Homo sapiens: one gene and its partners. The protein of the gene in region 3 interacts with the protein of the main gene of each other region in a pairwise test. Each region holds a gene or a part of one and is shown on either strand. Other genes may lie near its edges.

Region 1 (7,000 bases), on a different chromosome or scaffold from region 3:
TAAAGAGCACTTTTAATTTGTACTTTTATTACTGACTTGATTCTTCTGTGAAACATTTAAAAGCTGAGATTTGTCAACAAAAGCAAAAAATTGATAAATCAGACTTCATCAAAATTAAAAACTTACATCAAAAGACGCTATAAATGAAGTAAAAAGCACACAGAATGGGAGAAAATATTTGCAAATTATATCTCTGGTAAGGAATTAATATCCAGAATTTGTAATAACAACAGAAAAACCAAACAACCCATTTTAAAATGGGTAAATGGATATTTCTCCAAAGAAGATATACAAATGGCTAATAAGCGTGCGAAAAGATTGCTCAACATCAGTAGTCATTAGGGAGATGCAGATCAAACTACAATGTGATAACACTTCATGTTCATTAGGATGGCTATTATTTTTTAAAAATGGAAAATAACAAGTGTTGCCAAGGATGTGGAGAAGTTGGAATCCTGTGCATTGCTGGTGGGAGTGTAAAATGGTATAGCCACTGTGGAAAACAGTTTGGGCACTTAAAAAATTAAATATGAAGTTACCATGTGATCCAGCAATTGTACTTCTAGGTAGATACCCAACCAAACTGAAAATAGGGATTCAAACAGATACTTGTAGGTCAGTGTTCACATTAGCACTATTCACAGTAGCCAAAGGTGTCAACAATCCAAATGGCCATCAACAGATAAATAGGGAAACAAAATGTGGTGTATTCATACAATGGAATATCATTCAGCCTTAAAAAGGAATGAAATTTTTCTACCACAATATGCATGAATCTTGAATGCATTAGGCTCAGCAAAATATATTGTATGATTCCACTTACATGAGGTATCTAGAATAGGCAAATTCATAAGTATAATAGTAATTATGAATTAGTACTATGGTATGAATAGTAGTACTCATGAATTTGCCTATTCTAGATACCTCTTGTAAGTACAATAGAGGTTGCCAGGGCTGGGGAAAGGGGGAATGAAGAGTTCTGTAAACATATAATGGTGGTGGTTGCACAACATTGTAAATATACTTAGTGCTACAGAGTTATACACTTAAAAATTGCTAAAATGGTGAATTTTATATATATGTATTTGTATATTTTGCCATAATTTAAAAGAAAAAGCTAATGGCTGTTTTACAAGGTTATAGACATCATTATGCCCATTATAATACAAAGTGTCAATGTGTTCTGTCTTAAAGGTGCTCTCATATATATTTAGTTGTTTTGTCACCATATTCTTTGTTATGCATTTGCTGATAGTTTACCTATCTTAATCCTTATTTTAAAAGCAACTAGCAGCCTTCTACTTCATCAGTTTCTGTTGCTTGATCTGTAATTACCTAAAGCTTTAGGTTATTTTGAATAATTTTCACTCTTAAAATAACATTTGTATGTATGTATTTATATTAAAATCAGTACTAATAGTATTTTTAATAAGTATTAAAACTATAATATATTCATTCTCTTGTTAAGAATTAAGAAATCCAGCTGTCATAGAAAAGTCTTCCCTCATTGCAGTATTTTGCTTGCAGGATGAAGATGAGCTGGATTCCCACACCATGGTGAAGACTAGTGTGGAGAGTGTGGGCACCATGCGGGCCACAAGCACGATGAGTGAAGGGGCCCAGACCATGATTGAACATAATAGCACGATGTTGGAATCCGACTTGGGGACCATGGTGATAAACAGTGAGGATGAGGAAGAAGAAGATGGAACTATGAAAAGTATGTGGCTTTTTTACATTAAATATTAGTTTTCTAATTCGAAAGGATACTTTTATAGGAACCAGGCTAGTTCTGTGTTACTTTTTATAGCCAACTGTGGAAAATTTTGTTTCTTAGATTTATGTAACAGTAAAAAAGAGTATGGCACAAGTCACCTTTTTAAAATTGTATTTTAATATAGCAGAAAACAACACATCTTCAACTTAGAGTTATGGAACTTTTTTCTGTTGAAGGTTGCTAACCCACGGCTTAATTTGCAAAGTATTTTAGAGAGAAAAAGATAGTGTTCCTAACATTTACTTTCCCAATTAAAAAAGTGAACCTAAAATTATCTTCCAGTAAATTCAACAGACTATTATTTTATGTTGTCCAAATTATCAGTTAAACCACAAAGAGCAGTGCGAGCTATGGGAAGAAATAAGGTGGGAAAATAAGAAGCACTAGAAAGAAGGATTAAGAGACAGGGATGCTCATACAGAAGATTCAGTTGCATGAATATTTACTGCTGCTTATCATATGTGAGGCACAGTGCTGGGGGTGCTGCAGTGGCTAAAATGATGATCAAACATTCTCTCTGACCTCTGTTGCTTACAAAGTGATGACAATAGGAATGCTTTCACAGACTAGCACTTCTCTTTTTTAAAAACAGTTTTTTAAGATACTGCAGTTAACATCGTAGGTCATTGTGATTTCACAGTTATAGGCAAAAATGAATTTTCTCTTAGCACCAACTGACCTTTTTCTTCCTGTCATGCTCCTACCCTAGTCCTGTGTGGTTAGTGTCAAAGTCTAAGCAAGCACTAGGCTGCTTTCCACTGAAGAGTATTGCCTCTCCATGGCAGAACAGCAGAATTACATGACTTCTAGCATTGTAGAACCTAGAAAATTGTAAATATTCAAGTGATTTGCTGGTACTGCAAAATGGATACCAGAATTTTCTCTCAGATACTTCCATTTCCTTTTTGCCCACCCTTTTCTTTTTGCTACTCCGCCATGAGGTCTGACCCATAACTTCAAGTCACGTGGCTCAGTACTGCTGCTTTCTTCACATTCCCTAGTTCTGTGTAGCCCACTATGGTTGCATATGTACTTTGGATAGAGAGGATCATGAAGCACAAAATGTAATAGATTGCTATATTGCCATAATCCTGGGGGTGGAGTATGAATTTTCTATCTCCTGCCATTGGTGGGTCTTCTGTGCCTTTTTCCTGGAAAGCAGCCTACATCTTGGATTTCCTGAAATTCCTAGCTGGGCATCTGACTAGAGTAAGTTTTCTGCATCCATAACGTGCCTCACTCCACTGCAGAGGATGGTCTTATGGCCTCCAGAACCAGCTAGTGTTGGGGTACAAGTGGATCACAAAGACTCTGTGGTAAAACAGTTAACACATTTTTCATCAACATGTAATATCAATTTTCCATAAGCTGATATAATTTTTAACTCAAATTTTATGATTCTTAACAGATCAATTAGATCATTGAGTGCTTTTTTGTGTCTTTAGGGAGTTACTGAGCTCCTTATGAAACTATATGAACAACTTTTCATGCAGTCATATAGTTGAACATCAGCATATATATAATAGTTAAGAAAAATGAGTCTTTATAGAATCTAATTCATTTAGATTGCAGTGTATTATATTTCAAGGAAGAGAGACTAATGATGATGTTTCCGACATCATACTTTATACCACAGATTTCTGACATTTTGTATAGTGACTTTTAGATTTGACATCCACAAAAATCAATACATGTTATAATTTTGTTATAACTGATTGTATAGGTATGACTTTTTGTCACAGAGATTTTAGTGAAAACCAATTTTGAAGTTGAACAGATAAGTGGTTTTTATAGCTGCAGTTGTTTTATGGACCTCAGCAAATTTTAAATCCCATGAGCCAACTTTCTGTGTTTTTTGTTTTTACAAGTTAGACATCATTCTGTAATGTGAGACTTCAGTGTTTCCAAAATTCTAATCAAGTGATGTTAGTATAACCCCTAGGGATTGTCATATTGTAGTATAGCAGTAGTAAAGTATGTGAAGAAGTTATTGAGGGAAGACTTACTTTTTCTGAAACCATATAATTATTGTAGTTTTGTTTTTCTCGTGATCTAAATCTTTAAAACTTCTTAAATTAGTTGGTATGAGGTCTCAGCTTATGTCACATCAGTCAAAGCCACATTTGCTAATGTGTCTTTAGCATTTTTGTTCCCTAATAAGATGATAGCAGTATATTATTTTTGGTTTTCTAAAATCTCTACAATGTGTACTGAAGATTTAGAATTTCATCTCTTTTTCCATTGGAGTTTCAAGTGAGTTGCCTGATTTAACATCCTTGTCAGTTTAAATTATGTTTACACTTACTCTTTTATACCTTTAACCATGAAGCTAGAAATTATGGGCCTATTTTCCTTACCTCTAGAAAGGAAAATTACCCACAGACCCTTTGAAGGGAAGTGGAGAAAAATGACAAAAAGTATTTTAAAATTTGATCTGCCTTTTAAAAAATGGACGTGGACCCTATGGGCATGTCCCAAGAATAACTTTCTAAACCTGTTTTTAGCAATGATGGCATTACTTTTACCCTCCCGCTCCCAGTCTTCCTATTCAGATATCCCTAAGGCCTCCTCATTCCCCATGGAATGTCCAGGCTTCAGCTGTGTCACCAAGATCCTTCACAGTCTGGCACTAGCCATTATTTACATGTGGATCTCTACTTCTTCCTTATGGATTATGTTTTATCCATACTAGTCTGTGCCAGTTGGAATTCTGAATGCTTGACACTGGGTAAAAGCAGGTTGGTTGTCATTCAAGAAAATCAATTTAGGATTTATTATCCTGGAGTAGATTAGGACCAGGTCAAGAATCTATGTCATCAAACTGATGGGGTAGGAGAGATTATTTCATCATGGGTGACTCTGGGAGAGTAGTAGCTTCAGCAAAGAAAGACTGGGGCTTTTTAGTTTGTTCAGCTCAGATCTACTCAGTTAGCTCTGTTTTTATGGAGGAACTTTCTGATCTTACAGAGCTGTGGCTAGATTGGTAGCACTAGTTGCCCTGGAGGGAAACTATGTCTTATGGGTATCTGAGGAAGAGCCATATTTTCCAGCCAGGTTTTTATTTTTCATGTGTGTATCTGTTGTTTCTCCAGATAAGTCACGAAGTTTGTCCTGGTAAGAATGCTGTATAAATCTCCTCTGCCACATAATAGTACATGCTCTTGGAATATTGGTTTCATGAATGAATACTAATTACAGTAGAGTCAGAGTCAAGCTGTGTGTGTGTGTGTGTGTGTGTGTGTGTGTGTGTGTGTGTGTGTGTTATAGTAGAATTAAAGATACATAGCTCTGGAAGCTAAGAGAACTTTCAGGTAAACCTCCTGCCTTGGTAAGATACTTTCTTTTCAAGTGTTCTACCATCCCTGCTTCTCATTTCACAGAGCAGACCCTCTGAAAATGTGTTCCTTAAGATACCCATTCAGTGAAATTCTCTGATAAATATAGATAAATAATATACAGTAATCAGAATTATTTGGGAAATGCATATTTATCCTAGAGATAAATTATTAGAGAACTACAGTATATATTATTAACTTATTAAATACAAATAGTACAGGAAGGAAACAGTTTAAAAATTACATTACCCAAACTTTCCTTCACTTATTTGACCATGAAAAGCTTTTAATGAGGAACGTATCAGTGATTAACATCCTGTGTAATAAGCATCTGAGAAACACATTTTGGGAAATGCTATCATGAGAGCCCTCTAGTTCCCTGACCCTAGTTCCTAGTCTGCTTTCTTTTTATTAGCACACCCTCCCTTCACTTCTATATCCAGCTTAGAGGCTATATTTCATTATTTCGTTGCTTCTGCCACTCTCGTATGTTCTAAACTCCTCTTAGAGGCTATATTTCATTATTTCATTGCTTCTGCCACTCTCTTATGTTCTAAACTCCTCTTAGAGGCTATATTTCATTGCTTCTGCCACTCTCTTATATTCTAAACTCCACTGCCCTAATGTCTTGTCTTTTCTGCCTCTCCTGGAAAACTTTGATATGGTCCAGTCTCAGTGTTCATCTTCTCTGCATCTTTACCCTGGCTATTGAGTGCTGCTGGAGATAATCTTCCATCTGCACAGATGAGGGCTGCCAGATCAAGACCTTCTCCCCCATTTGGGCCCTCAACTTTCCTGGAGGCCTGTGTTTCTCTGTTCAGCAATTCCTCATTCTACAGAGTGGCTAGTTTAGATCTTCACTAGATCTCTTCTTCCTGCCTCCCATCTCAGTTTCAGTAGATGACGTTGCTCCCTACTTTACAGAAAAAAAGTGAAATGTTATCATGCAAGTACCTAGAGAAGCTGTATAGGTGTTTTAAATGTGGTCTTTGGAATAAGGTTGAAAAATTGAGTCATTCTTAATTTCCGTTTCTTCCTTCACCCTTCATGGAAGTAACATCTCATCAGTTCTGCCCCCTAAATATCCCTATTCTCTTCTCATGATCTCTGCTTGCATTTCTTTAGTGCAAGTCCTCATAGTTTCTCACTTGTGAGGCTTCTAAACTGATCCTCTGCCTCCAATCTTCATTCCCTCCCCACCATACAGATTTCAGCACATTTCTCTTCTGCTTATGCCCTCCCAGTGACTACCAATTGCTTATAGGCTAAAGCTCAACACCAGTTAAGAAGCAGTATATGCTCTGGTTCCTACTTACCTTTCTATTCCCTCTTCATCCTTCTTCCAGCTTCTCAGCTCTTACAGAGCTTTTTTACCTTTGGCCACTTGCAATGCCTAAATCCTCCTGTGGGATTTATGCTTCTTTTGCTAAATCATATTCATTCACTCAGGCTCAGTTAAGAGGTTGCTTCCTCTATCAACCCCAGGTTAGGAATAAGTGCCCCTCTAATAGGCTCCCATCTCACCCCAAGCTTTCACTCTTACAGCACTGTCATGCTTTATTGTGAGCGTGTGCTTTTGTTTATTTCCCACTGTATTTTTGATACCTAATACAATACCTAGCACTTGGTAAGAGTTCATGAAATGTTTTCTGAACAAATGATGTGGTATAGTGAAGAGCATGGGATGTGAAGCCAAATCATTTAGTAATTGTGTTGCTTAATTCTGTCTGAGTTTCAGTGATAAATATTTGTCTCTCTGTTGTGTGTATATGTGCAGGTGTGTGTATTAGGTAAATTCAAAACATGCCTAGCAGTGTTTTAAATATAGTTGATAATCAATAAAGGATAATATTCATCTGTCCACCCTATTAATTTATCCTTCCAACAA
Region 2 (7,000 bases), on a different chromosome or scaffold from region 3:
TCTCTAAAGGACATGTCCTCCTGAATATACCTCCAAAATCTCAACATAAATAGGTGCAAATTGGAACTAATCATCCTCCCCCAAGCCTTGCTCTTCCTGTGCGATCTCAGTAAATGGCACTACATAATTTCCCAAACAAGATATGAGTCATACTAGAGTCCTCCCTCTCCCTCTACATATTCAAATGGTCACCAGACACACCAATTCTCCAAAATAATAAAATAATAAAGGTTCTTTCTATTTTAAGTATGACTAAGTTAAATATGCCCCACCCCTAATTTTTTTCTTAGGCATAAGCAGAGCCCAAAAAAAAGGAAAGAATACCTGCTCTTGTTAGGTTAAGAAGAATAAAAGAAGTGCTATCACTTGGCTGTAGATCTTGCAACAAGCTAGAAGACTCTGAAGTGGACAAAAACTCCGGGGATTTCTGTACAGTCTGAGCTCTCGTCTCCTCTCCGTCTGGACCCACATTCACCCGAAGGCTTCTCAAAACAGCTGAGGAAGGGACCTCCTTGGAGGAGTTAGAATGATTTGTAGTATCATCTAGTAAAGGGAAAATACCACAGCTTTATGTAGCACCTATCTCTAGGAGCCCACCATTTTGATACACAGCACCCAACATCTCTTGGAAGCTAACATCCTTATAGCAACAGACAGCATTCTCATTACACAAATAAAAACTTTGTCTCACAGAAGAACAGAGAGATGGCTTTATGTTCCAAAGGCAGTCAGCCAAAACGTGAGGAACAGAATTCTCTGTCACTTGGCAGTAATGGTTGGTGAATAACCAACCATTCAACATTTGGACATCACAGAATTTAGTCCTTTTTGAGGCCAGAAATCAGTACTTTCTCCTTGAAAAATATAGCTATACAATGAATACTAACTCAAGAATAGGATCTACATTTTATTTTTCCTGGAGAGAGCTCCCTCTCCTTAACTTTTGTATTAGGTTGGTGCAAAAGCTATTGCAGTTTTTGCCATTACCTTTTTACCTATGGTTGTATCTCAGGCTGCGGTTATTTTTTCTGTGCCACCACACCTGGTTAACTTTTGCATTTTTAGTAGAGAGGGTTTCACCAGCCAGGCTGGTCTCAAACTCCTGACCTTAAGTGATCCACCCACCTCGGCCTCCCAAAGTGCTGGGATTATAGGCATGAGCCACCACGCCCGGCCTGTAATATTGTGTTTTATGAGCTGGGAGGCCAAGTATTTGGATTTTCATTTACTTTTATCTATACTTGTATGTCTAAAATACTTTAAATCAAAATTAAAACTAAAAGAAATGTGGAAAAGAAGGTGAATGCATTTTTTTTTAAATGCATTCATTAGTTGATGAACACTAAAGCTGATTCCATATCTTGGTTATTGTGAATAATGCTGCAATTAACATGTAAGTATAGACATCTTTGACTTACTGATTTCAATTCCTTTGGATATATACCTACAAGTGAGATTGCTGGGTCATATAGTGGCTCCATTTTTAGTTTTCTGAGGAACTTCCATACGGTTTCCATAATGGCTGTACTAACTTACATTCCCACCAACAGTGTACAAAGGTTCCCTTTTCTCCATATCCTTACCAACACTTGTTATCTTCCATCTTTAAGATAACAGTCATTCTAAGGGAAGATGAACGCTGTTGTTTTCATTTCCTTAATTATTGTTTGTTTATACATATATTTTTTAAATTTATTACTATTTCTTTTAGACAGGGTGTTGCTCTATCCACCCAGGATGGAGTACAGTGGTGTGATCACAGCTTACTGCAGCCTCAAACTCCTGGGCTCAAGTGATCTTCCCACCTCAGCTGGGACTACAGCTGCACACCACCATGCCCAGCTAATTTTTAATTTTTTGTAGAGACGAGGTCTCGCCATGTTGCCCAGGCTGGTCTCAATCTCCTGGGCTCAAGCTATCCTCCTGCCTCAGCCTCCCAATGTGCTGGGATTACAGGCACGAGCCACCACACCTGGCCTGTCTTCAACTTTTCTAACTGGTTCTTTCCCCTTAGCATAAAGCAACCCTCAAATATCTCAGATCTTAACACAAACAAAAAATTTCCCTCTATCTTACCGCCTTCTCTTTTTCCTTCTCGTACCAGGAGAGACTTTAGAAAGTATGTATTGATAGGCCTGGCGCAGTGGCTCACGCCTGTAATCTCAGCACTTTGGGAGGCCAAGGCGGACTGATCACTGGAGGTCAGGAGTTCAAGACCAGCCTGGCCAACATGGTGAAACCCCGTTTCTACTAAAAATGCAAAAATTAGCCAGGCATAGTGGCACGCACCTGTAATCCCAGCTACTTAGGAGGCTGAGGCAGGAGAATAGCTTGAACCTGGGAGGGGAGGCGGAGGTTGCAGTGAGCCAAGATTGCGTCACTACACTCCAGCCTGGGCGACAGAGTGACACTCCATCTCAAAAAAAAAAAAAAAAGCAAGTATGTATACTCAAGTCACTGCAGCCTGACTTTCCATCCTCTTCTCTCCATGGAACAGGTTCTGCCAAAGTCAATAATGGAGTCCTTTTAGTCCCTATTTCACTGGGCCTGTCAGTAGCATTTGATACAATGATTTCTCCTGGGTTTCATGCCTCCACTCTGCTGATGTTCATCCAACTATTTTAGTCTTTGTTTCTTCCCTCCTTTACAAGTTCTCCTGCCCTACCCTGTACCTTAAATAAAGAGTTCCATAGTTTTGCACTGACCTTTTTTCCCCACTCTCACACTCTCTGGGTGATCATATCCATTCCTATGGCTTAAACTACCAATGCACTAATGATTTCATGGTTGCTTTTTCTCCATGACTCCTAATTTTTACAGTTTCCACCAGTCAGTTATTAAACGATATATTCATTCCACCAGTAACATAGAGTAGGCTAAGCTCTTAAGACTTCTTTATCCTATTTCTAGTGATCTTAATTTTTACCTGGTAACATTAGCCGACTGCATTCTGAGGCTTCAGTCACGGGAAGGAGGGACAAGCAAGTAATATCTTTAGCTTCTGATTCTACAAGCCCCTGTCCCAATGGGATGGACGTATTCTGAACAAACTGTACCAGGAGCTGGGGGGAGAAAAGACAACACTGAGAAATACGAGTTGTTAGAAATGTATCTAAACCTTTGAATTTACCAAAAGATAATATTAAGACTGTTCACTAGTCTCATCCATATTCAAACAAAAACTAAACAACATAATATCTAAAGTTATTTTATCAAGTTCTCTGTTCTAGAGAACAGCTGATTTATATAAAGTCATGTGCTGCAAAACGACATTTCAGTTAACAGACCACATATAGGATGATGGTCCTGTGAGATTGTAATATCCTATTTTTATTGTACTTTTTCCACGTTTAGATATGTTTAGATACACAATGTTTACCACTGTGCTTCAACTGCCTACAGTATTCAGTACAGTAACATGCTGTATAGGTTTGCAGCCTAGGGGCAATAAGGTATACCATACAGCCTAGAGTGTAGCAGGCTAAACCATACAGGTTTGTGTAAGTATACTCTACCATGTTCGCATAATAATGATATCAACTACCATCATATTTCTCAGAATGTATCTCTATCGCTAAGTGACACTTCACTGTAATTAAGTTAACCTCTGCCACCTTCTGTCAAACAGAGAAATGATAAAAATAATTACATTTTAAAATAATGGCTTAAAAAAAATCAACTGCATCATATTGATTACATTTTACAAAACACTTTTCTGTGTACTGGCTCATTTAATTATCGCATTAACCCAGTAAGATTTAAGATGTATTTTTTTTTGAGACAGAGTCTTGCTCTGTTGCCCAGGCTGGAGTGCAGTGGCATGATCTTGGCTCACTGCAAGCTCCACCTCCTGGGTTCACGCCATTCTCCTGCCTCAGCCTCCCAAGTAGCTGGGACTACAGGTGCCCGCCACCACGCCCAGCTAATTTTTTTTGTATTTTTAGTAGAGACAGGGTTTCACCATGTTAGGCAGGATGGTCTTGAACTCCTGACCTCATGATCCACCTGCCTCGGCCTCCCAAAGTGCTGGGATTACAGGCGTGAGCCACCGCACCCAAACTTAAGGCATATTTTACAGCTGAGGAATAAAATTGAAGACATTAAGTGACTTGTCTAAGGTCACAAGACTAGTTAGGAGCAATGCCAATCCTCAAATTTAAGTAATCTGATTCCAAATTCAGTGACCACTCTGCAACACAGATGTGCTAAATTTAAAGTAAGAAAAGTGAACAACAAAAAATGTTTAAATCCCCAATCACATTTAGAAAGAAAATACTTACAGATATATATAAAATAAACAAAAGAATTTGTAGTAGTAAATATTTATATACTTATACACCTATACATCACATGTATCTCATATTTATGTATATATTTATACATAAACATATATTTTTATTTATAAGATTTTATTACATTATCTAAATGTATGATTTCACATATACTGAAAAACAGATATAAAAACAATCACAAAAAATATAATTTTTAAATCTTTGAAAAAATAGTAACAATCAAAACCATATAGCTTAAAAAACCTAAAATATTTATTATCTGGCCCATTAAAGAAAAAGTTTGCTGACCCCCTAAACTGAAGATAAACTTTGAAATATAGCCCACCAAAAGAAAAGGAAACAAGCTGACTGGGCTCACCTCTGGTTTGGATTCTAACTCATCTGATAACATTGATTCAGCTTCCAAAACCTGTAGCTATTCAGGGGACAAGTTCAAATTTAATTCAGAGCCAATGATACCTTCCTGTTATGTTCATATTCCTCTAGGAAATACTATGCTCTTCCCGTAAGATGTTGTACTAGGTGGGTAATCAATGTAACCTAGAATAGGGGTAAAAAAGAGAGAGGGGGCATTAAGAGCAGTGGGAAAACACAGGTACATAAAGACACTTCTTTACATATACAAAAAAAATCACAACAAGCAAGCAAATAAAGAATTCAAACCGAAACACTTCTTTTAAAATACAACAAGCTCAACAGGCATCAAAACCCATAAAAATACTACGCTTTGATGCAGTATTTCAACCTCTAATAATCTAAAAAACTATCTTAAATATGGATAGAGCTATGTCCAAAGATGTCCGTCTTATCCTATGTAATAAACAACTGGAAGCAATGTATACACACACACACACCCCCAATTAGGGAATGGTTGATTAAATATGGCACTGTCACTTCAAAATATGCTGTGAAGGGTTGGGTGTGGTGGCTTACAACTGTAATCCCAGCACTTTGATAGGCTGAAGCAGGTGGATCACTTGAGGTCAATAGTTCGAGACCAGCCTGGCCAACATAGTGAAACCCCCTCTCTACTAAAAATACAAAAATTAGCTGAGCATGGTCGCAGGCACCTGTAATCCCAGCTACTCGGGAGACTGAGGCAGGAGAATCCCTTGAACCCAGGAGGTGGAGGTTGCAGTGAGCCAAGGTCAGACCACTGCACTCCAGCCTGGGCGACAGAGCAAGACTCTATCTCAAAAAACAAACCAACAAACAAATGCTATGAAGACAATGCAACAACAAGTGACTGACATGTTAAATTATAAAAATAAAATACAAAATTATATACTTGCTATTATTAAAACTAGTTATAATAAGCATCAGAAAAAGTAAAAGGAGATTCATACAGCTATGACCGTAGCTATACCGTGTGGTAGGCTGGTGTGACTTAATTTTCTTTTCTCAATTTTCCAATATTTCTAAAAGGCAACCATATTGTTTTGATAATTTTTAAAATTACATTTAAAAAAAAAAAAGTTAAAATTTGAAGAGCGTTTCCCAAAGGTAGTGCTCTCAGGACCCTGATGCGGCTGTTCTCTCTCTTTTATTTATTTATTTAGAGATGGAGTTTTGCTCTTGTTGCCCAGGCTGGAGCACAATGGCACGATCTCAGCTCACCACAACCTCTGCCTCCCAGGTTCAAGCAATTCTGCCTCAGACTCCTGGAGTAGCTGGGATTACAGGCATGAGACACCACACCTGGCTAATTTTGTATTTTTAGTAGAGACGGTTTCTCCATGTTGGTCAGGCTGGTCTCGAACTCCCAACTTCAGGTGATCCGCCTGCCGTGGCCTCCCAAAGTGCTGAGATTACAGGTGTGAGCCACTGCGCCCAGCCACTCCCTATAACTTAAATTCTTACTTTCTTATAGCTTAGTTTCTTTTCAGGATTTTGGAATGTGAGTCCATTTTATTTTGTACAATTGTTACTAAAATTGGGAGCACTATTACAAATAATCATACAGTGTAAAATGTATCCAGGATGGGTATATTTTCAATCAATGGGTACTTTAAAGTTTCCAATTAATACCAGGTAGTGTGGAAAGGTAGAACAAGACAGACTTTACAAAGAGGGCACTTAGGCTGGGCACGGTGGCTCACGCCTGTAAACCCAGCACTTTGGGAGGCCGAGGCGGGTGGGTCACCTGAGGTCAGGAGTTCAAGACCAGCCTGGCCAATATGGCGAAACCCCGTCTCTACTAAAAATACAAAAATTAGCCGGGCATGTGGCGGGTGCCTGTAATCCCAGCTACTCGGGAGGCTGTGGCAGGAGAATCGCTTGAACCCGAGAGATGGAGGTTGCAGTGAGCTGAGACTGCGTCACTGTACTCCAGCCTGGGCGACAGAGCAAGACTCCATCTCAAAAAAAAAAAAAAGTAACTGAATAAATGTTTTTTTGTCCTGTTGGTTTCTCCCTCTCTCTTTCTAAGCTACCTGAAATCCTCATTTTTCATTGTAAAAAAGTAACCATTTAGGCCGGGAGCAGTGGCTCACGCCTGTAATCCCAGCATTTTGGGAGGCCGAGGCAGGCGGAACACAAGGTCAGGAGATTGAGACCATCCTGGCCAACATGGTGCAACTCCGTCTCAACTAAAATACAAAAAATTAGCTAGGTGTGGTGGCATGTGCCTGCAGACCCAGCTACTCAGGAGGCTGAGGTAGGGGAATCGCTTGGACCTAGGAGATGGAGATTGCAGTGAGCCGAGATCG
Region 3 (8,487 bases):
TGGACTTTAGCTGTACAATCTGAAAGTAATCGTGACTTGTTGAAATATTACCCCCATGGCTGGCAAATCCTTTAACATGATTGGCAATGTCACTGTATGTGTGTGTCTAGCATGAGACATATATAGCTGTGCTTGAAGCTACCGGAGCTTATATTCTGATTGCTTGGTTTGTAGCTGCTAATTCGCTAATTCTTTTTTTTTTTTTGAGACGGAGTCTCGTTCTGTCACCCAGGCTGGAGGTGCAGTGGCGCAATCTTGGCTCACTGCAAGCTCCACCTCCCGGGTTCACGCCATTCTCCTGCCTCAGCCTCCCGAGTAGCTGGGACTTACAGGCGCCCGCCACCACGTCTGGCTAATTTTTTTGTGTTTTTAGTAGAGACGGGATTTCACTGTGTTAGCTAGGATGGTCTCGATCTCCTGACCTTGTGATCCGCCCGCCTCAGCCTCCCAAAGTGCTGGGATTGCAGGTGTGAGCCACCGCGCCTGGCCTCGCTAATTCTTAATTAATCTGTAGAGAGATTTGCTTTTAGAACTCTTGTTTTTATGTTCTTTGGATGGTATATACATTTTTTTTTAAATTTGTTTTTTGTTTGTTTGTTTGAGACGGAGTCTTGCTCTGTTGCCCAGGCTGGTGTGCAGTGGCACAATCTCGGCTCACTGCAACCTCCGCCTCCTGGGTTCCAGTGATTCTCCTGCCTCAGCCTCCCAAGTAGCTACAATTACAAGTGCCCACCACCATGCCCAGCTAACTTTTGTATTTTTAGTAGAGACAGAGTTTCACCATGTTGGTGGCCAGGCTGGTCTCAAACTCCTGACCCCAGGCAATCTGCCTGTCTCGGCCTCCCAAAGTGCTGGGATTACAGGTATGAGCCACCACGCCTGGCCTTGGTTTTTGAGACAGCGTCTTACTCTGTCACCTAGGCTGGAGTACCATGGCATGATCATAGCTCATTGTAACCTTGAACTCCTGGGCTCAAGTGATGCTCTTGCCTCAGCCTCCTAAGTAGCTAGGACTATAGGCGGGCCCCATTATGCCTGGCTAGTTAGAAAAAAAAATTTTTTTTTTTTGGAGACCAGGGTCCTGCTATGTTGCCCTGGCTGGTCTCGAACTCCAGGCCTCAAGTGATCCTCCTGCCTCAGCCTTTAAGTGTTGGGATTACAGGTGCGAGCCACTATGCCTGGCCTATTTTTATTGTTTTTAAAGGAGTAGTGGACCCTTTTTTAGGTTTCTTATCTTGCCTTTTTTTTTTCATTTAAAAAAAATTTTATTTATTTTTTGAGACAGAGTTTCACTCTTGTTGCCCAGGCAGGAGCGCAATGGCACGATCTCGGCTCACTCCAACCTCCACCTCCCAGGTTTGAGTGATTCTCCTGCCTCGGCCTCCCAAGTAGCTGGGATTACAGGTGCCCGCCACCACGCCCGGCTGATTTTTTGTATTTTTAGTAGAGACAGGGTTTTGCCATGTTGGCCAGGCTGGTCTCAAACTGCTGGCCTCAGGTGACCCGCCCACCTCGGCCTCCCAAAGTATTGGGATTACAGGCATGAGCCACCATGCCTGGCTCTTACCTTGTTTTCTAAAAGGAAGAGCAGAGCTAACTATAAGCATATTTTGGGACTAATATCTATTAAAATTTATTCTTGAAAATAATTTCCTTCTTAATCAAGGCACAGTTTATATTTGAACAGAAACAGAATAGATTTTATTCCACTGTGGGCTACTGGTATTAAATAATAAGATGAGCCGACTGGCGACTTAGAGGCTGGGGTAACTTGGATGGTTACCTTGATCTGGAGGAGGGGATCACAATGGGGAAGTGGTCTCAGGAATGGCTGAATACTCTGTAACATGCTGCTTGTTTCTTTACCCAGTCTACGCCTGCAAGCTCTCAGACCGGGAACATCCACTCTACCTGCGTTTGGTAGCAGGGCCCAGAACAGACACACTTAGTTTTGTTCTTCGTGAACATGAAATTGGAGAGGTAAGTTATTGTTCACTATTGCTTTAAACTATACAGAACAGCTGGCCCTATTTTATTGCAGTAGCCTAGTGACTTGGCTATTGATGGGGGATGGGAAGAGAAGAGAGTTGGAGGGCAGGGGGATGGGAAGAGAAGAGAGTTGGAGGGCAGGGAGAGGGAGAGGGATTTTGAATTGTCAGAAATGAACCCAAAGTTAGCCTATGATGTCATTCTCTCACAACCTTATATTATTAGTCTGTCATTTTCAGAGGTGGGAGAAAATAAAGTTTTTTTACTTGATCTCCATCCAGAGAGTCATTTTCACCCCTTCCCACCTCCAAAATACTCCAGTCCAGCTGAACTTTGAAAGTTGACACTCACCATGTGTTTGCTACTAACAAAAGTCTCCAGGCTAATTCCCTTCTAAAGGGATATAAAAGGAAATTCGATCTCTTTACCATGGAAGGCATTTAGCTTTCTAGCATCTTTTTTTTCCCCCTTGCCCAGTCAACTGATTAAGAAATTATGTTTCCATGTGCATCATTTGCCATGTTGTCTCCAGGGAGGATTGTATTTAGCCAGTTCAGTAGAAGAAAAAAAGCACTTGAGCCTGCCCTCTAGATCAAGTGTCAGCTTTAAATGACACTTGAGCAAATCCCAAGCTCCTGTCCCAGTCTTCTGTCTGGAACAGGAAATGGTGTGAAATGTCCTACATGGTGCAATTGAGAATAGGGTTTCTAGGTTAAAAGTTAGGAAACGGCTCTGTTTCCTACTGTTTGTTAGATTAGTAGCATGACCTTGGATAAGTCTTCTAATCTTTTAGCCCTCAGTTTTAAAATCTGTTAAGTGGGACTAAACACTTTACAAGGTGGGCTTTGAGTCACAATTAGAAATGTATACATGTAAGTGAAGGGAGTTTTAGGAAGACAGTGGTTTTACATGTTTTTGAAGTTTCTTTTGATTCTGGTGTTTTGAAGCTTTTCAAGACATTCAGACTCATTTTGGGGAGAAGGCAGGGTGCAGAAATCTGACTTGGCTTTGCAGATGGTGACCATTCCCTCTGCCAGCTTAAGCCAGACACATTAGCATAGTCTACTCAGTGTTTTATTTTTCTTGTACTTAGTGTTTTAAGTAGCAACTAGAACTACATTGGGCAAGAATTTTATTAACTTGGTTATTTTATTGTATTTTAATTATAATTAGAGATAGGGTCTCACTACGTTGCCCAAGCTGGTCTCAAACTCCTGGGCTCAAGCAATCCTCCCACCTCAGCCTCCCAAAGTGCTGGGATTACAGGCATGAGCCACTGCACCTGGCCTTAACTTAGTTTTGAAATTGACTTGACATTGGGTTTTATTGTTCCAGACTGCTGTACTGGACCTCTGTATGGTGTTCTTATTTCTCAGTTATTTAAGGAAAACTGAACTGAGGAAGAAATTTCCATAGCTGTTAGGGGGTGGGAGGGATATTTATATGATGTCTTTATTTTGGAGACTTCAACATAGGTGAAAGATAATCTGTTAAAATTTTAAAAATTAACAGAATATTCTAACGTAGAAGTTTTGCTCTCCTACTCCATGTTGCTCTTTTTTTTTTTTTTTTTTTTAAATAACCAGCCTAAACTGTTCTCCAGGAATTCTTCTACCACTGAGCCCATTTGGTGGATTTACTTATTTTTCACTCTTTGTTTGTATTTGGTTATCTTGAATCTTTTCTCTACACCATCAGACAGCAGTTCTCCACCAGGATCCAGGGCCCCCTTTGGGAGAGGAGGATGTGTTTGGAAAAAACCTCGTAGATGATGCTAGATACCCTCCTTGACATTCACTGCTTCTATTTTTTAAAATCTGTTTTAATTTTTTTTTTTTTCTTTTTAAAGAGACTAGGTCTTGCACTGTCACCCAGGCTGGAGTACAGTGGCGCAATCATGGCTCACTGCAGCCTCAATCTCCCGGGCTCAAGCAATCCTCCTACCTCAGCCTCCCAAGTAACTGGGACTACAGGAATGTACTGCCACAGCCAGATAATTTTTAAATTTTTTGTAGCGACCTGGTGTCACTATTTTGCCCAGGCTGGTCTCGAACTTCTGGTCTTGAACTTCTGGGCTCAAATGATCCTCCTGCCTAAGCATTCCAAAGTGCTAGGATTATAGGCATGAGCCACAATGCCCAGCCTAAAAACTTATTTTGTGCCTGCTAAATAAGTACTAGGAGCTGTTAGGGAAACAAGGCTCAGAGCCTCAAGGCAAGAGATAAACTCCAAATAGCGAGAAGTACGGCAGCTGTGGTGTAGGTAAGGTGCAGGTGAGATAGATATTAAGCAAATAATTGTAATTTAAAAATCTTGGTTGTGATCAGGGGCTCTGTGAAGGCTTTTGATACACTTAGCCTTGGGTGGGAAGAGAGGAGAGGAAGTTGTGGAAAGCTGCTTAGAGAAAGTGGCATTTAAGCTGAGATGGGGAGGATGAGTAGTTCATAGCCAGGCAAAGTGGAGGAGGGGAGAATGCGTGCCACTTGGGCAGAGAGTGAAGCTCGGTGAGAGAGAGATGGGGCCGGAGAGTTTAGAGTCTTTCAGACAGCATCAGCAACTAAGGGAAGCCATTGGATGGTTCTAAGCAGGGGAGAGTCTTGGCCAGATGAGCATTTTACAAAGGATGTTCTGTTTGGGGAACAGATGGGGGAGCATAAGAGCCGAGTGAGGAGGCCAGGTAGGAAGCTGTTCCAGCGATGCAGGAATAGATGATAGTAGCTAGCACCAAGGGGCCGTACCGAGGGAGAAAAGGCTGAATGGAGAACTGTTTGGGGGTGATAAGACTGATTATGCGAGGTAAGAAAGTCAGTTACAATGAGGACTCGAGGTTAAGATGAAAGGACTGTCGAATTGTTTTTAATGCTGTTGGGGGTCAAATCAGGTAAGGAATGAAAGTGTCCAATAGACTTAGGGATATGGAGGTCTCTGGCTTTTAGGGAGATCGTCTTGAACAGTGGGAGGAGAGGGTAGGAAGGTGATTGGTGTGAGCTGAGGTGGGAGTGGGAGTGGAGGGAGCCCTTAGGCTGGCAACACCCCAGCTCTTGCAGACCACACCTTCTGCGGCATGGGGCTGGGAGGGGAGGGCAGCCGCACCTCTGGGAGCTCCTGGTCAGCATTCCTAAGTCTAACTGAGTATTAAACATCTGGCATTTTTCTTTCTGTGTTTCCTGACAGTGGGAAGCCTTCAGCCTTCCAGAACTACAGAATTTCTTGCGCATCTTGGACAAGGAAGAAGATGAACAGCTGCAGAACCTGAAGAGGCGCTACACAGCCTACAGGCAGAAGCTGGAAGAAGCCCTCCGTGAGGTGTGGAAGCCTGATTAAAGCGGGGCTCCCTGCCCGTGAGGCCCGGTGCAGGACCGATGTACAAAACAGCAGCAAGTGCCTCTCTTCTCAGAGGGCTGCTGTCTTGCCCCACTATGCTAGGGTCTTCGCCTTTCTATCTGTAGATTTTGTTCCCCAAACCTGGTCACACAGCATCCTGCACCTTAGCGTCCCATGTAAGGGACTCTGCAAGCTTGTTGTTCAGCACCGCAGTGTTACCTCTTGGCAAGCTGTGAACCTGTCGCCTCATCAGGAGCATTCGAGGGTGCTTGGAAGCATGAACTCTGGGGGTGTTTTTTTTTTTGGTTATTTTAATTATGTGATGATGCTGTTAAGCTTACAGATATGCAGTTGATTTTTTAAAAAGCTTAACTAGGAATCTTTCTGAATACTTGTCCTATTTTGAAACTACCTGTCTGGTTTTTTGTTTGGTTTTGTTTTCTTTTTTTAATGTCAGAGGAATCTATCCATGTGAATCGAAAGGCACAGGAATCTAGGAACTCTGAGGAATTTATTGTGAAGGATTTTGTTAGGGGGTTGACAGAGAAAGCAAAGTGTAAGTTTGGAAGAAGGCATGTGCGGTGGTGGCGAGTGCTGCGGGCTATGGAAGGTGACTTGGCTTTTCAGTTAGGGGTAGTGGAGAAAGGGGTAGTTGCTTGTAAACGAGTTAAAAGCATTCAGTGTGGAGGTGTTAAACCCATTTTAGGATCGCTTGGTTTCCTGGTGGGTAGAATATGGGAACAGAGCCAGAGGCAGGAGCTAAACCAAAAGGAGGGACCCATGAACTCTGCAGCTGACCAATCAGAGAATCAGGCAGGTGTAGCCTACTGACCTGGGCAGAGGTGGGCCTCACGCAGCTGGATCCGACCCTTTAATTCTGCCCTTTTGGAGTGGAAGGTCTGATTGGTGTAGCTGCTCTGCATAGGCAGGACAGTGACAGTTCACTAACTCTTGTTAAGTTACATAGTGTATAGCTTTCCCCCCACAGGTGGTTTTCAAAGTTGAGACGGAATTTGGGTAGGGGCAGCTGTTTTTCCCTTGATTGTTAGCTAGGATATTTGTCAAGTAAACTTTGGTGACAATCACTCTCTTCCCTTTTATTCCTCCTTTCCTTTTCCTTTCTTCCCTTTTTTCTTTCCTTCCCTGCTGTCTCCCACCCTACCTTGTTCTTTTCCTCCCTCCCTCCCTCCCTCCCTCCCTCCCTCCCTCCTTCCCTCCCTCTCTCTCCCTCTCCCTTTCTTTTCTACATTGAAATCTGTTCTTACATAATAGAGAACAGGGCTATTGAATAAAGACCCAATCCTACCAGATCTTTAGTTCTAAAGGGCAACTTGACTGTGAGTAGGAGGGCCCCCAAGAAAGGGAGGAAAGTCCACACCCAGCTAACCACACAACAGGGCTTCATTATGGAAATATTTTAACAAAAGTACATGTTATTACCAACCAAAGAGATGCATGTGCAATAGAAGCCTTCCTTAAAAACAGGCTAAATAACCTCATTTTATGCAGCAGTTTAATCTGAGAACAGAGGGAAAGGTGTGCAGTGGTTCCAGAGGGGCCTTATATTCTATTTTTAGTCTAGATATTTTTTGTTTATAAATTCCCAAGGAATTGTTAACACTTTGGTGACACCTAATGGATTCTTTTTGAAATTCCAAGGTGCTTCAGTTCTTTGCCCAAGTGAACTGTGCCTTTTATTGCATTTCTGTTCGTCTCTTGGTGGCTCTTCTGACTTTTTGGAGAATACCCATCTTGTTGGAGGCAGACTTAAGTTGTTATGCTGTGCCACACAATTTACTGAGACAATCATATCTTCCTAAGCATTTAAGGAAAGTTGAAAAAAATAGAATTAGCTATAAAATATGTATGGCACATCTTGTTTAATTTTGCATGTAACTTCTCTTTTGTACATTGATGAGGTTTTAGTGACATTGTCATCCAACACTTTACCTTTATTGTTCAGGGAATGCCTTCGTGATTTTTTGTACTGGTTTTATTATTCAGACTATGGCCTGGATTTGAGTATATTGTTATTACCACCTGGTTTTTTAATTATTCATCCCAGTAAACTTATATTTTGTGAAGCATTTGTTTCTCAGATTAAGACACTGTTAGAACCTAAAGTAGTAGCTGATGGGTATCTGTGAATTTTTTTTTTTTTTTTTTTTTTACTTGAAGTAGATTGTCTGAATAGGCATCCTCATCTATATTTACCCAAAACCTCGCTTACTGTCATGTGCACTACAAATTGCAATTTGGAAACCTACTGTATTGAAATTCTGTCAGTTTATGGTTCTTGAAGACTGATGTCCTTTCCCAAACACTGGTTACTGCAGCAGCATTTTTAATGTGTAAGTGAAGAAAAAAGGCCACTAAGGCCAAAGATTTTTTAAGAATCATTGTACAAATCATTATGTTAAACTATCTAAGCTTTGCTGTAATACTGTTTTCTCTTCAATATGTGATGGTACAGGAAGGATGTTAAATGAAGGGGTGGTATTGCAGGAGAGCATTTTAAATGGCAGAAGTAAAAAGTTATAATATTTATAATTTTGATGGGTTTAAGTTTATTTTTGTAGGGAAGATTTTTCTCCCCTAAAATAGTTTCTAGAATGGCAAAATTGTTTCCATTATTAAAAATTGAAGTTATTAGTTGTTTATGTGTGTTTATTTATGATAATATGCTAGATTTAAAAAGGTCACAGGAGTGCGCTGAGCTGCTTTTGCACATATACACAGGGACACATGCTGGAATGCAACAACTTTACTAGGTTCGCGTGGGTCATATTTGTTCTCCCAGATATCATTTTCTCTTTGCCTTATCCTCTGAGGAAAAATAACCCTAAGCTCACACAGCATATTCCAATGTATTTAAAACAATTGTTTTAATTTTTGAAATATACACATTTAAAAGTATATAAAGCATGCAAAAGAGGAGGGAGGCCGAGAGTGAAAAAATAAAAATAAAAAAGCATGCGAACAGTTTAAAGGATTATTATATAAAATGGACACCCCCTGACCATTACTAAAATAGAACCTTGTCAGTTCTTTAGAAATCTCTCCCTCCACCCCTGTTCTTGCCCTGAGGTCTCCTACCCCTGAAACATACCACTTCAACATAAAGTGAGTATTTGTATTTTTTTGGTCACCATGACTGCCTTACACAGATGGGAT

The links.
Region 1: the proteins of RASSF3 (region 3) and STK3 interact in binary tests that used the Homo sapiens proteins (3 or more experiments, as listed by UniProt).
Region 2: the proteins of RASSF3 (region 3) and ZNF410 interact in binary tests that used the Homo sapiens proteins (3 or more experiments, as listed by UniProt).

Annotation. Positions count from the first base shown.
Region 1 is NC_000008.11:98,542,689-98,549,688, reverse strand, and holds part of STK3 (serine/threonine-protein kinase 3), read left to right. Parts: intron 1-1,527; coding exon 1,528-1,720; intron 1,721-7,000. UniProt on the Homo sapiens protein: Stress-activated, pro-apoptotic kinase which, following caspase-cleavage, enters the nucleus and induces chromatin condensation followed by internucleosomal DNA fragmentation.
Region 2 is NC_000014.9:73,889,859-73,896,858, reverse strand, and holds part of ZNF410 (zinc finger protein 410), read right to left. Parts: intron 4,833-7,000; 5' UTR 4,684-4,832; coding exon 4,651-4,683; intron 3,063-4,650; coding exon 2,927-3,062; intron 2,501-2,926; coding exon of another isoform or gene 2,450-2,500; intron 544-2,449; coding exon 325-543; intron 1-324. UniProt on the Homo sapiens protein: Transcription factor that binds to the sequence motif 5'-CATCCCATAATA-3', and is specifically required to silence expression of fetal hemoglobin in adult erythroid cells.
Region 3 is NC_000012.12:64,689,600-64,698,086, forward strand, and holds the end of RASSF3 (ras association domain-containing protein 3), read left to right. Parts: intron 1-1,870; coding exon 1,871-1,980; intron 1,981-5,163; coding exon 5,164-5,313; 3' UTR 5,314-7,965; downstream 7,966-8,487.